Linked DNA regions of Homo sapiens: region 1 is linked to region 2. The links come from fine-mapping of genetic effects on gene expression. A gene starts in region 2. The other region holds a variant in brackets. All regions are shown on one strand. Distances are between the middles of the regions.

What was found. PIP is the estimated chance that this variant, and not a neighbour inherited with it, causes the effect.
Region 1: its variant is the best candidate, but not a certain one, in a credible set for the expression of RPS26 in breast (GTEx, PIP 0.63).

Annotation. Positions count from the first base shown.
Region 1 is chr12:56,138,155-56,141,178 of GRCh38, reverse strand. It overlaps ESYT1 (extended synaptotagmin 1), which reads right to left. Exons shown (of 31, transcript NM_015292.3): 21 at 2,907-2,996; 22 at 2,680-2,775; 23 at 2,340-2,411; 24 at 2,166-2,252. Among named protein-coding and RNA genes, the nearest start is that of ESYT1, 11 kb to the right of the region's middle. The variant A/CA (reference allele first, on the strand shown) is at 1,601.
Region 2 is chr12:56,040,700-56,043,430 of GRCh38, reverse strand. It overlaps RPS26 (ribosomal protein S26), which reads right to left and starts at 1,513. Exons shown (of 4, transcript NM_001029.5): 1 at 1,262-1,513; 2 at 829-1,006; 3 at 1-68. The coding sequence starts at 1,264. RefSeq lists enhancers at 825-1,084, 1,225-1,554, 1,003-1,792 and a silencer at 1,705-1,764.

The sequences.
Region 1 (3,024 bases), 98 kb before region 2:
GGCACAGTGGTTCACACCTGTAAGATGGCTCATGGCCATCTTTTGTCTCCTCACTCTCCACGCTGCCTAAGAGATCTCACCCATGACTACACTTATGAGTGGTTGCTTGCTCATGATGTTCCAATAAGAGGGCAAGGGAGGAACACCTCATGGACAATAGATTTGTTTTCTGCATGTCTTCTCTTGGATGTCCTGCAGAGATCTCAAATTCCAAAATTCCCTCTCTGTGCACTCCCTAAGTCAGCAACGGCACCCTTATCCATCTAGCCACCCTGTGCCAAAAACCCCAGAGTTAGTGTCTAGGCTGTTCCTTGCTCCTCCACCTGCTCCATATCACAGCAATCTTCAAATCCCATCAGGCTTTAGTCGTTTCCTGCTTTGACTGCTCTAACAGTCTCCTCACTGATCTCCCTGCCCCCAGTGTTGTCCCTCTCCAGTCCATTCTTTACCCTCTTATCCCTATGATCTTCCCAAAATGCAAATCTGGATATGTGACCTCTCATTAAAGGCTTCCCTGACTGGGTGTGGTGGCTGACGCCTGTAATTCCAGCACTTTGGGAGGCCGAGGCAGTGGATCACTTGAGGTCAGGACTTAGAGACCAGCCTGACCAACATGGTGAAACCCCGTCTCTCTTAAAAATACAAAAATTAGCTGGGCGTGGTGGCGGGCACCTATAATCCCATCTACTCGGGAGGCTGAGGCAGGAGAATCGATTGAACCCAGGAGGGAGGTTGCAGTGAGCTGAGATCGTATCACTGTACTCCAGCCTGGGCAACAGAGCAAGACTCTGTTTCAAAAAAATAATAAATAAAATAAACAAAGGCTTCCCTAAGCCTTAGGATAAAATCCATATTTCTAGCATACTATTCAACAGCTCCTATGATCTTGCTCTGCCTGCCTCTCTGATCTATAATAAATATGCCTTCTCTCTCCTCCATTTTTTTTCTCAGCCTAAAGAGTTTTCCTGCTCTTCTTTTCGTGGTCCGAAAGAACCAGTAAATCTACCCTTAGGCTGGGGCGCGGTTCTCACGCTTGTAATCCCAGCACTTTGGGATGCCGAGGCGGGCAGAATGCTTGAGTCCAGGAGTTCGAGACCAGCCTGGATGACATGGTAAAACCTCATCTCCACAAAAAAATACAAAAATTAGCTAGGTGTGGTAGTGTGCACCTGTTATCCCAGCTGAGGTAGGAGGATTGCTAGAGCCCAAGAGTTGAGGCTGTAGTGAGCCCTGATTGCACCACGGCACTCCAGCCTGGGCGACAGAGTAAGACCCTGTCTAAAAAAAAAAAGGCCGGGTGCAGTGGCTCACACCTATAATCCCAGCACTTTGGGAGGCTGAGGTGGATGGATAACCTGAGGTCAGGAGTTCAAGACCAGCCTGGCCAACATGGCAAAACCCCGTCTCTACTAAAAATTGGTGGGGTATGGTGGCACGCGCATGTAATCCCAGGTACGCGGGAGGCTGAGGCAGGAGAATCGCTTGAACCTGGAAGGCTGAGGTTGCAGTGAGCTGAGATTGCGCCACTGCACTCTAGCCTGGGCAATAAGAGTGAGACTCTAGTCTCAAAAAAAAAAAAAAAAAATCTACCCTCAAGCTC[A/CA]GGGGTCATCTAAGGATGCCTTTCTATCTCCAGCCTTTCCCCAGCCTGAACCCTTCCTTTCTTCCCCACAGTGCCTTTTACCTCAGTTATCATTCTGAAAGTTTCATCTGGTTATTTTTCTCCCAAAACAGAGTGTGAGCTCCATAAAGATAAGAAGTCAATCTTTTGGCCGGGTGCGGTGGCTCACACCTGTATTTCCAGCACTTTGGGAGGCCGAGGTGGGCGGATCACCTGAGGTCAGGAGTTCGAGACCAGCCTGGCTAACATGGTGAAACTCCATCTCTACTAAAAAAAATGCAAAAATTAGCCAGGTGTGGTGGCGGGCACCTGTAGTCCCAGCTACTTGGGAGGCTGAGGCAGGAGAATGGTGTGAACCCAGGAGGCGGAGCTTGCAGTGAGCCAAGATAGCACCACTGCACTCCAGCCTGGGCGACAGAGCAAGACTCTGTCTCAAAAAAAAAAAAAAAAGTCAACCTTTTATCTCATCTCTGAATGCTCTGTGCCTGGTTTCCTGCCTGGCCATGGCAGAAATCTGCTAAATATTTGAAGAATGAATTTACAGTACCTGCAACTCTAGGCTCTCAGTGTGTGGTTTCCTGATGAGAAAGGAGGCACTCTCATCCCAGACAGGGGCTGAAGTTTGCGAAATAGTCTGGTGGAGATGAGGGCTTATGATCAGTAGCTGATACTCTTATTTCTCTTATCCCTCCCATTTTTACCCTGCAGCATTTCTTCATACCTTGGTTTTATGAGAACTATCTCCCACAGTGAGAGTAGCATAAGGGCTGAGGTGCTTGGTGCCTTTTCGCAGCTAGAAAGACAATACTGTGTTAGTCTTAAATTTGGACCTAGTTAGGCAGATCCCCCTCACAAATTATATCCACAGCCAGCAGCCATGTCTCCATTATTACTTGGCAGCCACTACCCGTGGCCTTGAACAGACAACTTTTCCCACCCCTGCACTACCCTCAGAAAGAGAGGGGCCATTTTTCTTATTCTAAATACTCCAGGACCATCCAAACCGGAGGAAGGTGGAAGAAGGGCCAGGAAGTTATGGGGCATGGGGAGCGGGATCTCACCGGGAGGTCCTCTGCCCGCTCCATATAGATGGATAGCAGGGCCGCAGCCAGCTCCGCACTCTTCTGAGTCTGGATCAAACTATTCACCTGCAGCACCTGTGGAGGGGCACACGGGGCTGGGGAGTGGTAACTGACACCTTGGGTTCTGGCATGTGCCTTGAACGCTAAGAGAAGAGCTCATCCTGCCCCACCTTGGGTCCCTTCCTTCCTCAAGTCTCCTGCCCTACCTCCTCTAACTCAGCAGCAGTGGGACGGGGGGTGAGACGCTCCAGGCGCAAGTGCAGGCGGCCAGATGGGACATCCTCCAGGGTCAGCCACTGTGGAAGTAGGCAGGGTGAAGACTTG
Region 2 (2,731 bases):
TACTTTGCTGTGAATTGCACAACTCACACAGTAATGTAGCTTCACATACAGCTTGGGAAGCACATAGGCTAAGGAATAGAAAATAGAGTTATACTGGTATTATATACCTACCTTGCTTTTTTGTTACATGAATGAAGAGCACCTTACATGTTTACGTCAATTAAAACTAAACCTATTTAAATGCCTGTCGGGCACATAAAAGCACCCCCAAAGCACCTGTTCAGCCCAATACCTGAGCACATATGTATAACCCTCAGTTTTACAAGTGAATTAACATCCCACGTGAGTTCATCTTGACACCGCAAGGACCAGACTGACATTCTAAATGCAATAAACCAATAATCCAGTTCCTTCTACACCTACACCCGCCCTAATGCCTACCCTGAACCTTGCTCTTTCTATAAAAGGAAAAAAACAAAGCGACGTTCTTATTGCTCCAAACATCATCCTTGCACACCAAACTAGACGGCCTCCATTCTCGAAACGTTGAAGACATTCTTCCTCACCTGTATATTTTCACAAATATTCAAATAATCAATAGCACAAGAATTGTCAAATTTACCAAGTTTCTAGTTTTTGCAATCTCATAACCGAAACAGGCAAACCTTTACCTCAGAGTAAAGGCTGTGCACTCTATCACAAAGTCACCCTCTGCCCAGAAAAGAATCAAAACGGCAAACAAGAGAATTCTCTTCTACCAGTAACAACCTTAAATACGTGGAAATTGCCTGAGAGGCTCCAAAGAACAGAGCCTCCAAAAGGGCGAAGTTGGGCGAAGGCTTTAAGATACTGGGATCCTCACACAGTTCGCGCCGGTGACCCACTTACCATCGAAGACGCTCGCTTCAGAAATGTCCCTGACTGCTGCGGCCTCCACTATGTTTCGAATGACGAATTTCTTAATGGCCTTGTCCTTGGGCACGCATCGGGCACAGTTAGTGCAGCGAATAGGCTGCACGTGGCCGCGGCCCTTTTTGGCACGACCATTGTTCCTTCTTTTCTTTGTCTGCGACAGGATGGGAAAACTGTTAGGAAAACGGCGCAACTCACCCAGCCTCAGTCCCTTTCCGGCCACAAGCCGCACCGGCAGCCTCCAGGAAGGCGCCGCTCGGATCTCCTGTTTCTCCGCAAATCCCGCCGACCCCCAGAGCAAATGAAATGTACACTCGGTCCACCCCTCAGCCGTGCTCCAGGCTCTCACTTCCCCACAATCCCAGAGTCTGCACCCGAACCCCCACCCTCACCACGCAAGAAGACTCACCATCTTGGAGGCACGGACCGGAGAGAGGAGACGGTGCCTGGCAGGGCCCTCCTATATAGCATGAGATCCCTACGCGGACACCGGGAGAATCCTTAGGAGACGGGCTTCAAGAACGGCAACTCACTTTACTCAAATATTCCTTTACATTCAGCATTTCTGCTGAAATCTAGGGTGGAAATGCGTTCCTAGTGTTTATTTATCCATGGAACAAAGTGCACATGGGACTATTTAGCCGGATGGCGGAAGAAAATCGAGGTTATGTGTCTCCCAGCAAGCCTTGCGCCGCGCCGACTCGGAAGCAATTCTGGACGATGCAGTTTTCCGGTATACGCGACGCTAGGCGTGAAAGTTGCCAGACGCTGGACCACAAGGCGCACTCGTTATTAGAGGCCAGAGAGGGACAGATGCTTGGTGGGAATTGTAGTGCGAAGCCAAGAGGCTCCCCCCTCCCCCCCTTCCCCCCTGCCCCAAGTGCTTAGACCGAAGGCGGCGCTGCGCCACCGGGGGACGCCCTGGGCTCATTTCTCTGACAGTCCTTCTACTAGGTAGGTGTAGGATTACGAAGAGGAAGGCCTGAGAGGAAACAAGCATTTTGTGAATCCCTCCTTCCAATATGGAGAAAATCCCACAATGAAGTGCATTGAGGCTGGGGCTATTTCTCATTCATCTTTTTATCTCTGGCACAGTGCCTGGCCCTGTGGTAAGCGTCTTTATAAATATTAACTCATTTAACTTTGAGCAAGCCTATAGGTAGCTACTATTATTATCCTCACTTTAAAGATTGAAGAATTTAGCCCGGCCTGGTGGTGGGCGCCTGTAATCCCAGGTACTCAGGAGGCTAAGACAGGAGAATCTTGAACCTGGGAGGCGGAGTTTCCAGTGAGCCGAGATCGCGCCACTGCACTCTAGCCTGGGTAAAAAGATCGAAACTCTGTCTCAAAAATAAATAAATCAATTAAAAAAAAAGATTGAAGAACTGACGTGCAGTAGGTATTCTGGCTCCGCTGTACTATGCTGTATGTCACCTAACAAATGGATGGAGGAATAGCCTGGACTAATGACTTAAACGTTTTTCACCCAGATTCATAGCACGAATACATTTTACATTGGTACCCAGTACACACACAAACACGATTACATGCACATGCAAAACTGAAACACAAGCTTTATGAAACGATACTTACCCTTGTCATAGGTGTGCTGGTATGTTCTATTCTTTATTTTTACTTAATCTTTCTGTTCTCTATTTTAATAAATGCTGATCAAAAACCACGAAAATTATTTCACCACTCATTAGTGAATCTGACCCCTAATTGAAAGATTATGTGTAAGCTCCATTTACCTCTGAAGAGCCATCGGAAAGACTTAAGCCTTAGGCTGGGTGCAGTGGCTCACGCCTGTAATCCCAACACTTTGGGAGGCCAAGGCAGGCGGATCACCTGAGGTCAGGAGTTCAAGACCAGCCTAGTC